Homo sapiens: one gene and its partners. The protein of the gene in region 1 purifies or fractionates together with the protein of each later gene. This does not show direct contact. Each region holds a gene or a part of one and is shown in the gene's direction. Other genes may lie near its edges. The genes, in order: CCNL2, GNAZ and IREB2.

Region 1 (3,724 bases):
CAATGTAGTATTTGGGGGATTCTGGGGATTCTGGTGAATTTTTTCCCATGGAGTTAAGTCTGTAAGGGTCATATTTTTGCTGACTGAATTGTCTGGTGCTATGACATGTTTAATAGAGAACCTATTTTGACTTTTCTTTTCTGTACTCTTTCAATCAAAGGGTAGCCTCTGAGGGTAAGTGACTAAGACTTCTCCTCTGCTGTCCAAGCGCTTTGGTGCAGGGACAGCGGCATCTTCAGCCAATCCAGTGCAGGCTCTCCACCGAAGGCTGGCTCTAGACTGGTGGTACGCACATAGCATAGCCATGGCCGACTCCTGCTGTGGTTCTCTGACGATTGTGCTTCTTGTTAATCCTCTGTCGTGCTTTGGTAATCGTATTGATTAGAGTTGGTAACTGTCTTGACTTGAATTTTGTCCCTTTAAAACTGCTGTACCTGTATGATAAAGATGCAGTACCTTTCTCTTAAAAAAAAATGCTATGGAAAGCTGTGAGAATTGAAGAGACAAATTGGCTGTGTCAGTGTGGGGTTATGTCATGATTTCTAGAAGCCCTGAAGTTGCTCTTTTGAGCAGCTTTGCATGACACGCTCTGGTAAAAGGTGTGCATCTTTAAATTATTTCATGGATACTTTGAAAAATATTGTATCACTTCAAATACAGCAATAAGTTTATATGTTCTCAAGATTTCATTTGTTTTTAAGAATTTTAAGTTCGTGGATTAATATCACTACTTGAATACTGACAGTTGTTGATTAGACACCGAAAGGTTACTGATTGTTGAATGTATCTGTGTTAGAGCTGTGCACTGGCACGCTTGCATCAGGGGCTGGGGCCACACGGCCGCCACACAGATTCCCCCGTGATGCCTGGAGCTGCTTCCAGAGCCGGGTGTCTCCAAGAGGCACCTGTAGGACTTCCCATTTAGAAATCTCTTGAGTGGGTTTGTATGTTACCTTCTCCAAGGTTTATTTAGGACAGAGATATTGCTGGAAGGTCATGGGTCAGATTCCCTCACAACCCACCTCGTCTGCGGGTGCAGCCCCACTCCAAGGCTCCCCGTTATTGGGGTATGTGAGGAGCAGTAAATATAAAACCAGTTCAACTGTCCTCATGGAATCACCCTTTCTGTTTTTGCAGTATTCATAAAGCTAGTGTAAGGTCTGGTTTTAGTCTATTAAATCTTAGAGATCTAAAGGAAATGCTCAAAATGTAGCCAGGTTTTAAATGCTTTAACTTTTAAAAAATGTAAATTTTTGTATGTTTATAGCTTCTAAATATGAAAGTTAAAGAATGTACTGTGATGAAATGTTCAGTATTATGTTGCTTCTCAGTATCATGTTGCTTCTCAGTATTGTGTTGCTTCTGATTCTATGAATGTTCATTTTAAGACCCCTTGTTGAAATGGGACAGTTGGCAGCGGCTCTGATGAGCCCGAGAAGAGGCCTGCCCTTGGGTGCGGAGTCTCCCTCCGCACGATGCTCCCACGCGTCCAACTTGCACCCAAGGGGCTTTTCCCTCTTCCAAGTGGACTCCTTCAAGGAAGCTGCAGCTCGGTCAGCAGAGAAGGGGCCTGCCGCCAGCGCCCTGGAGGAAGAGGAAGAGGAACCCAAGAGGATGGCTTGTCTCCCAGCAGCCACACCGGCTTTGTGCTCAGCCAGTTCATTTGAGTTTGCATGTTTCTCTGCACTATGGATTTTGAGCATTTAGATTTCTTTAATCAAAAGCGTTTTAGTGACTCCAGTAGACATTTTCTTTCTGAGGCATCGTGCTTTGCATGAGAGCAGGCCAAGGTTGAGGGGAAAAGTAAAGTTAAAGTCGGTTCTCTTTCATAGCAACACGTATTGTCTGACATTCAGCCAGCTTTTTTTTTTTCTAATAATTTCTGTGCCTTTCTGTCCTGTATTTACTGTATTTAGAAAAAGCAGCTAGAATATTTCTCCATTAACTCTTGAGATTCACAGGACTGTCTAGCTCTGAGTCCTAGCAATAGACTCCTTAGAGGAGTAGTACGTTTATCTAGATTTTCTCTAGATAATGCAGGCGGAAGACCTGGGTTCCCGGGTGGGGCATTGCAGTTCTTCCTGTGTTTGGCTTCCAGGAATTACATGAACGACAGCCTTCGCACCGACGTCTTCGTGCGGTTCCAGCCAGAGAGCATCGCCTGTGCCTGCATTTATCTTGCTGCCCGGACGCTGGAGGTCAGTGTGTTGCTACTATGGAGAGATTCTAGTCTGATTTTTTTTTCTCCAGCCTCCAGTAAACTTTACTGTGTTATTCTTCAAATTACTCTAATCTGGGCCAAAGCATTTTCGTGACCAACAGGCTGTTTTTTAATTGTCCTGAGTCTTGCTGGCCGTGAAGTTGAGGAAAGTGTAATGATGATAGTGTTTGTTTTTACAGATCCCTTTGCCCAATCGTCCCCATTGGTTTCTTTTGTTTGGAGCAACTGAAGAAGAAATTCAGGAAATCTGCTTAAAGATCTTGCAGCTTTATGCTCGGAAAAAGGTTCTTCGGCATTTTTTCATGTAACGTATGCGTTTGTGTTTGGCCAGAAACACCTGGTTCTGAACGGACACCTTCTGGCTTTTGCAGGTTGATCTCACACACCTGGAGGGTGAAGTGGAAAAAAGAAAGCACGCTATCGAAGAGGCAAAGGCCCAAGCCCGGGGCCTGTTGCCTGGGGGCACACAGGTGCTGGATGGTACCTCGGGGTTCTCTCCTGCCCCCAAGCTGGGTGAGTCTGTTAGAGTGCAGGAATCCACTCCCCACAAAGGCAAAGACTGGTGACTCTCCCCCGCCTCCATTCTGGGGTATGTGCTCCTTCCAGACATTTTTTTTTTTTTTTTTTTTGAGACAGGGTCTCTGTCACCCAGGCTGGAGTATGGTGGTGTGATCGCAGCTCACTGCAGCTTCCAACTCCTGGATTCAAGTGATCCTCCCACCTCAGCTTTCTGCATAGCTAGGACTACAGGCACATGCCACCATGCTTGGCTAATTCTTTTTGTTTGAGACAGAGTCTTGCTCCAGCCCAGGCTGGAGTGCAGTGGCGCAATTTCCTCTCACTGCAAGCTCCGCCTCCTGAGTTCACACCATTCTCCTGCCTCAGCCTCCTGAGTAGCTGGGACTGCAGGTGGCCGCCACCACGCCTGGCTAATTTTTTGAATTTTTAGTAGAGACGGGGTTTCACCAGGTTAGCCAGGATGGTCTCGATCTCCTGACCTCGTGATCTGCCCACCTCAGCCTCCCAAAGTGCTGGGATTACAGGCGTGAGCCACCGTGCCCAGCTGTGCTTAGCTAATTCTTTATCTTTTTAGTTGAGTCTGGGTCTTGCTATGTTGGCCGGGCTGCTCTTGAATTTCCTGGCCTCAAGTGATTGTCCTGCCTCAGCGTCCCAGAGTGCTAGGAGCATAGGCACCTGGCCTTTCTGTTGATTAGCAGGGAGTATGACAGGTTGTCTGAAATGCTTTTGTTTATCCTGCTGCCCAGGTAGCTTGTCATCTGATGAAGGTGTTATAGTGTGGGGCCATAGATGATACACGTCATCAGACCTAGAGTTCAGTGTGATGCAAAGGGCCTGTCTGCAGTTCTTTTTTTTGAGATGGAGTCTCGCTCTGTCGTCCAGGCTGGAGTGCAGTGGTGCGATCTCAGCTCATTGCAAGCTCCACCTCCCGGGTTCATGCCATTCTCCTGCCTCAGCCTCCTGAGTAGCTGGGACTACAGGTGG
Region 2 (3,500 bases), on another chromosome or scaffold:
TGGATTTCCCCGCAGCACCACGTGCAGCCCCCAGCTCCTTGGTCTCAGCCCAAGCCCCCCTCTACCTCCTTCTGCAGGAGTGAGGCAGCCCCTGCCCACTGTGCTTAGGCACCTCACGGTGCTCCCACAGCCTGAAGCCTCCACCTTGCTCTGGTCCCTGCCTATCTGCTGGCTCCTGGGCTGGCCCATCAGAGTGCCCTCAAGGGAAAGCAGGGGCCAGGTCTCCCTCCTGGTGCTTTTCCTCCCTGTGATCAGAAGTGACCCAGCTCCTGCGGGGGTAATGAGAGTCAGGGAGGCGCTCAGTTATCCCAGGGCTGGGCCGAGGCCTGGCCACCCGTGTAAAACAGGGCAAGGCTGAGCTCTATCAGTGCTGTCTGGGAGAAGGGCCCCAGGGGGCATCACAACAGGGTGACCTTATTGAATCCTAACTGGATGCGGTAGAAGTGAGTCCAGCATGGGGGCTGGGTGGGCAGAGGCCTCGCACACACCCTCCTCTCCCTCATGCACCTGGCTTCAGGTGGACTGTCCAGGCAACAGCAGACATATGTGTTACACCATGGTGTGGGCCCTACAGCGCCCCATGGAGGAGAGGGGGTTGGATGGATTGTTGCCGGCTCATTTTCCAAGGCCAGTCTCTGCTGCTTTGCTTTCAGAAGAGCTCCCTTTCACTGTCCAGCCTGAGGTGGGGCTGCGGGGAGGAGGCTCACGCTTTTCTCTGTGTTTGGCAGGTGAAGGGCTGGATGCACAGTGGGAGCCGGAGGCGGGGGGCTGCAGGGAGCACACCAGCGACCGGCCCTCCAACCCTCCAGCCACTCAGCAACATCGCCACAGCAACCAGCAACCAGACGGCAGCAGCCGAGGCAAACACAAGCGGACGGCTTCCCACCGTCGCCGAGGACAGGGAATGACTACGGCAAATCAGGCCACTTTGCCAACTAGGGAGGTGGAGTGTCACTAGTGGGGAGGGGCGGCCACCGCCCGCTGCACAGAGCGCCATGCCGGCTGGAGAAGAGGCGCTGGGGCAGGGGCTGCAGTGTGGCTCGGCCTCACCCCCCTGCTGGCACTGAGTGCCTCCAGGGCAGCTGGGCTCTTGTCTGCCTGGTCTCAGTGTCCCCTGTGGCAAGAGGGAGAGGTGCCCCATCCCGTGCTCCTTGTCTGGGCCCGCTGCTGCCAGACCATGGGATGTCGGCAAAGCTCAGAGGAAAAAGAAGCAGCCCGGCGGTCCCGGAGAATTGACCGCCACCTGCGCTCAGAGAGCCAGCGGCAACGCCGCGAAATCAAGCTGCTCCTGCTGGGCACCAGCAACTCAGGCAAGAGCACCATCGTCAAACAGATGAAGATCATCCACAGCGGCGGCTTCAACCTGGAGGCCTGCAAGGAGTACAAGCCCCTCATCATCTACAATGCCATCGACTCGCTGACCCGCATCATCCGGGCCCTGGCCGCCCTCAGGATCGACTTCCACAACCCCGACCGCGCCTACGACGCTGTGCAGCTCTTTGCGCTGACGGGCCCCGCTGAGAGCAAGGGCGAGATCACACCCGAGCTGCTGGGTGTCATGCGACGGCTCTGGGCCGACCCAGGGGCACAGGCCTGCTTCAGCCGCTCCAGCGAGTACCACCTGGAGGACAACGCGGCCTACTACCTGAACGACCTGGAGCGCATCGCCGCAGCTGACTATATCCCCACTGTCGAGGACATCCTGCGCTCCCGGGACATGACCACGGGCATTGTGGAGAACAAGTTCACCTTCAAGGAGCTCACCTTCAAGATGGTGGACGTGGGGGGGCAGAGGTCAGAGCGCAAAAAGTGGATCCACTGCTTCGAGGGCGTCACAGCCATCATCTTCTGTGTGGAGCTCAGCGGCTACGACCTGAAACTCTACGAGGATAACCAGACAGTAAGTGGGGCCGGGGGTTTTCCTCTGCTTGTTCCTGCTGTCGTGGGTTCCTGGAAGCAAGAGGACTCGTGAGGTCCAGGACAGTCTGCAGCCAGAAAGGGAACCAGGCGCAGGCCTGGCCCTGCTGCACGATAACTGAGGCAGCTCCAGCAAGGTGGGGGCAGAGGGAACAGGGTGTGGAGTGCAGGTGTCATGTCCCATGCCTGAAGTACTCAGGGTGTGGAGGCCACAGGGCAAGAGAGTGTGAGGCTCCGCCGGGCATCCATGATCAATCCATGTGATAGTTTGGCAAATCCATGAAGCTCCTGCCAGCACCAGTCTCCTACCAGCATATAGGTCCAGGAACAGCAGCCACCCCTGCAACCCCATCTTGAGTCTGCAAATCTGGCAGAGATGGGGTTAAGAGCTGTTTAGAAGGGATAATCCCAGGTCCTGGTGGAAAGGGGACGACGTAAAAGCAGGTGTTGGGATTCTTTCACAGTGGCATGGGCGCAGCCCGAGGGAGACCTGGACCCAGTGTGAAGCGGTGGGGGCTTGAGAGTGGAGTTGCTGGAGAGGGTGGGGAGCCGGGTGAAGCAGCAGGGCAGTGTGCTGAGGCCCAGCCAGGACAGAAGGTCTAGCACACGAAGGGGGCCACAGCCAGGAGTGGCAGCGGTGGAGGCCGTGGCAGGCAAGGGAGGGGCTGTCTTGCCCAGCAGGATTCCCTGAGCACAGATTTCAAGTCTGCCCTTAAGAGAGAGGCCTTTGACCCTGGGGATGGGGGAGTGGGGGCAAACAAGGAGTCACGAAGTTGTGGGTACCCTGGGGCTAGGGGAGGGTGATGCTGGGAGACAAGGGCTCAGCCTCTCCACTTGGGAGCACTGGCCTCCGAGGTCACTCCTTGCTTCACCCAGTCCTAAGGCAAGCTTTATTCTTTAGGTTCAGCGGAGAGCAACAATGGTTCTAGCTTTGGACCTGTGCCCCAGCCAGGGAACCTGGACAGCTCTAGGCAGTGGCCATGGTGCTAGGAGCCTGAGTGTTCTGAGAGAGAGGATCTTTGGCTTTCCTCAGGCAGCTGGGGAGGCGGGCTTGCCTCCCTCCCCTCCTCGCATCAGGGGTCTCCCTGGAACTGTGCCTAGGTGTTGATGGTGTGCCTGGGGGAAACGAATGACGGACGGGCAGGCAGGTGTGTACGCAGGCGGCTGCGTCCACCCTGTTCCCAGTGTGTATCTGTGTGCTCTCCAGGGTTCTGGCCCCTTACCCTGTGGTTGCCACAAGTTCAGCCCCATGTGTGGTTCTGGGCAGAGGGGACATCTCAGCAGATGAGTGAGGTCAGGCTCCCTTGATGAGGCATGGCCGTGGGCAGAGCGCTTGGGGCTGAGAAGCTGCAAGGCAAAGTGAGGTGCTCAGGCCAGACCCTTGGGACAGTGCCATGGTGGGTCTGCCAGTCACACGGGCTTGCGCCACTGGCCTCACCCATCACCACAGTGGCAGGCGTGGCAAATTCCCCGGGCACCAGGCCTGGCTCCCAGTTGCATCCTTTGACAGGCCGTGCCCACAGGTGTGCTGGACACAGGAGGCAGGATACCTGGGTCCTGAGTCAGTCCAGTTTTTCATGGAG
Region 3 (3,724 bases), on another chromosome or scaffold:
TGCTAGAATTTGAGGAGCAAATTTTTAATCATTCTGTCCAAAAACATCATGATTTTTTAGAACACACTGTTTTGGCTGGGCATGGTGGCTAATGCCTATAATCCCAACCCTCAGGGAGGCCAAGGCCCACGTATCGCTTGAGCTCAGGAGTTTAAGACCAGCCTGGGCAAAAATAAAAATTTAAAATTTTTTAAAAAAAAGAAAAGAATACACTCTTAATTTTCTTTCCAAATGGATAAGGCCTATTTTTGTTGTTGTTGTTGTGACCTAAGTACTATTTTATTCCCTTGATCATTTTCATGCGCCTCTTTTTCTGAGTCCTTTTATCTTTGCTTTGGTTCATCAACGAAAACTGTATTCACAGATGGGGAATAAACGGTGGAATTCCTTAGAAGCACCGGATTCAGTTTTGTTTCCATGGGACTTAAAGTCTACTTATATCAGATGCCCTTCATTTTTTGATAAACTTGTAAGTACTGTTTTACTATTTGATCTTTTAAAGATTGTTATAAACTAAGAAGTCTTGTAAAGAGTTAAATGCCTTGAACTTTTACCTTCTAGACCAAAGAGCCAATTGCACTCCAGGCTATTGAAAATGCCCATGTCTTATTATATTTGGGAGACTCTGTCACAACAGATCATATATCACCTGCAGGAAGTATCGCTAGGAATAGTGCTGCCGCTAAGTATTTGACAAACAGAGGGTATGTGTACATGGCTTTAGAGTGTTTTTGTTTTTTCTTGTTTCTTACTGATTAAGAGGCTTCTATTGGTCTTGTTCCTTTTTTCCAGTAAATACATGCTATCGTAGGTAATCTGACTGCCAATGTGTTTGTCTTAAGCAAGAATGGAGAGTGGCGGGGTGGGGAGGCGGGGGGTACCTTCTGTACTTGTCTTTGCTTGTGACTTTAGAAAATGAAATTGCAATTTTAAATTGAGCCCTTATAGTCTAAATAAACAGCTGATTGGAAATAAGATTTTTCTTTTTCAGTGCTACTTTATTGAAAAGTCAGCTTGGTTTTACCTACCAAATGAAGCCTGCTCATTTGGTTAAAACCAGCTTCCCATTATTGGAGTAAGGAATTTAAATGTGTATTTTATGGGCTATAACATGTACGTGTGTGAGGCTGGGAATGATATGTACAAATCAAAAGACAATGAATTTCTGCTTCATGAGCCTAAAATTTTATAGGAACAATAAACGTAAAGGCCATTTATATTGGAGATATAAATTTAAAACTGGTAAGATTTCATTTCTACATGATTAATCATGTAGAGTTGCCCTGTTATCAAAGGACTGTTTTGACAATAGAGACAAAGTTTTGTTAAAAGCAGGATTTGTAGTACTGCTACCTGATTAGCTTATTGGATGCTTGTTTGATGCTTGAGTAATTAAAATGACAAGCTTTTTCATTGAAATTTATTTATTTATGTATGTATTTATTTATGTATTTATTTTTGAGACAGACTCACTCTGTCACCCAGGCTGGAGTGCAGTGGTGTGATCTCAGCTCACTGCCACCTCTGCATCCCGGGTTCAAGCAATTCTCCTACCTCAGCCTCCCAACTAGCTGGGATTACAGGCACGCGCCACCATGCCCAGCAAGTTTTTATATTTTTAGTAGAGACAGGGTTTCACCATGTTGGTCAGGCTGGTATCAAACTCCTGACCAAGTGATCCGCCCACCTCGGCCCCCCAAATTGCTGGGATTACAGGCATGAGCAACCGTGCCCAGCCAAAATGTCAATGTAGCTTGTGTTGACATGTGATAATATTGCACAGCTTTTATTATAAAGTGGTGAGAAATAAGTTTCCTTTCCTGTAAATATTTTTTTGGTTGTGATTTCCATCTTCATCATAATTGTGACATACCTCCAAAAAAGAAAAACAGTCAACACTTCTCTCAAATGTACAATTTTTGTAATTATTATGCCTCCTGATATGTATTTCTTAGCACATTTAATCCAGTAGTGCTCATCAATTAGAATTTTCTAAAAATAAAGACACTCAAACCTCCTACCACTCCCATCCTGAAGTAAAAATTTAAATGCACAAATTTAGAATATTGTTGCCTCTGCATAAAAGACCAAATCAGAGGCTGATAAAAGTCAGTTGTTGATTGTTGAGATACTTATGTTCAGTTATTTTTCCCTAAAAAGTTATATATGGTCACTAATCCAGTAGCAATACCCCCCGCACCCAGATTATGATTTCTAAATACTGTTTCCCACTATAGTGAACCAGTGCTTCATGGAGAAATTATTGATTCCAGATCTGGGACTGGAAAATGTACACAATTTTACCAAAAATTACCAAGATTACCAAAAATAAAATTACAAAGATTACCTGATGGTCACAGACCATCAGGCTTCTGTCTAAAGGTCTCAGGGTCAGGACCAGCTCATTAGCTTGAAAACTGGTAAATAATCAATTCTTTAACCAGCCTTTCATGTATGGAATGTATTTCAGCATAACCAAATCATTGATGAAGGAAAGTTTGTCATTTGTTTGTTTGTTTGTTTTTAGAGACAGGGTCTCACTCTTGCCTGGGCTGAAAGGCAGTGGCACTTGGCCCTCTGCTGCTTGGAACTCGTGGGCTCAAGCACTCCTCCTGTCTCACCCTCCTGAGTAGCTTGGGACTACAGGCTCGCACCGTCATGCCTGGATAATTTTTAATTTTTTGTAGAGATGAGATCTCCCTTTGTTGCACAGGCTGGTCTCCAACACATGGGCTCGAGCATTCCTCCCACTTTGGCCTCCCAGAGTGCTGGTATTGCAGGCAAGAGCCAACATACCTGCTGGAAAGTTTTTCTTTATAGAACTTTTGTACCTAAAAAATGAAGAAGGAATGGGTGAATTATAGTATCACTATTTTACGGTCTCTAATAAGCAATCTAGACCACAATGAGCAATCACTGGTAACATTCCAGGAAAAGACAGTTGGCTATCTTGTGCCTCCTAATAGAAGTACATATGACCTATGAAGCATTGTTGCCAAAAATTAAAAACCCAAATCTTATCAAACCACTGGATCTGACATGTGATTTACAAGAACAGAAGGCAGAAGAACATGTTAAATGATTCATGGAGATGCAGTCAACACAATGTGGGTACAGAAAACTATACAAGTAACTTTATTGCATCAGATAGAGCACAAGCAGGAGGAAGGAGAGGGAACATATACTGTCATTCTTCAGTATAGATGTGGGACTGGTTCCAGGACCACCCATGTATACCCAAATCCACACATACTGAATTCCTACAGTCAGCCTTGCAGAAGCCACATATATGAAAAGTCGTATTTGCAGTTTTCTGCATCCTGTGAATAATATATTTTCTGTCAGTGTTTGGTTGAAAAAAAATCGATGTATAAGTGGACCCACACAACTCAAATTCATGTTTAAAGGTCAACTGTAGATTAAAACACTTGAGATCAACTGAACACATTTATGAACTGCATTTGGATCCTGATTTGAACAAACCAACTTAGTTTGGAAATAATCAGTGACAATATTGACTATCTGATGTTAAGAAATTATTGTGATTTTTTTTTTTTGGTGTAAAGATTTTTTTTTAAGAGTCTACATCTTTTAGTGAAATGTACTGAAAAGTATGCTGTTAAAATTATCTCAGTTTTGCTTCAAAATAATCTAATGGGGTTGACTGTAGAAGAAACGGAGCATCTGTTAAGTTATAGCTTGGTGATAGGCGCATGGACATTCA

Evidence for each region.
Region 2: the proteins of CCNL2 (region 1) and GNAZ purify together in Homo sapiens (affinity purification with mass spectrometry; 2 studies listed by BioGRID and IntAct, with this or other methods). This does not show direct contact.
Region 3: the proteins of CCNL2 (region 1) and IREB2 purify together in Homo sapiens (affinity purification with mass spectrometry; 3 studies listed by BioGRID and IntAct, with this or other methods). This does not show direct contact.

Annotation. Positions count from the first base shown.
Region 1 is NC_000001.11:1,389,240-1,392,963, reverse strand, and holds part of CCNL2 (cyclin-L2), read left to right. Parts: intron 1-159; exon of another isoform or gene 160-160; coding exon of another isoform or gene 161-182; exon of another isoform or gene 183-1,374; coding exon of another isoform or gene 1,375-1,667; exon of another isoform or gene 1,668-2,098; coding exon 2,099-2,198; intron 2,199-2,400; coding exon 2,401-2,505; intron 2,506-2,592; coding exon 2,593-2,734; intron 2,735-3,724. UniProt on the Homo sapiens protein: Involved in pre-mRNA splicing. May induce cell death, possibly by acting on the transcription and RNA processing of apoptosis-related factors.
Region 2 is NC_000022.11:23,094,519-23,098,018, forward strand, and holds part of GNAZ (guanine nucleotide-binding protein G(z) subunit alpha), read left to right. Parts: intron 1-728; 5' UTR 729-1,177; coding exon 1,178-1,900; intron 1,901-3,500. UniProt on the Homo sapiens protein: Guanine nucleotide-binding proteins (G proteins) are involved as modulators or transducers in various transmembrane signaling systems.
Region 3 is NC_000015.10:78,490,058-78,493,781, forward strand, and holds part of IREB2 (iron-responsive element-binding protein 2), read left to right. Parts: intron 1-364; coding exon 365-469; intron 470-561; coding exon 562-704; intron 705-3,724. UniProt on the Homo sapiens protein: RNA-binding protein that binds to iron-responsive elements (IRES), which are stem-loop structures found in the 5'-UTR of ferritin, and delta aminolevulinic acid synthase mRNAs, and in the 3'-UTR of transferrin receptor mRNA.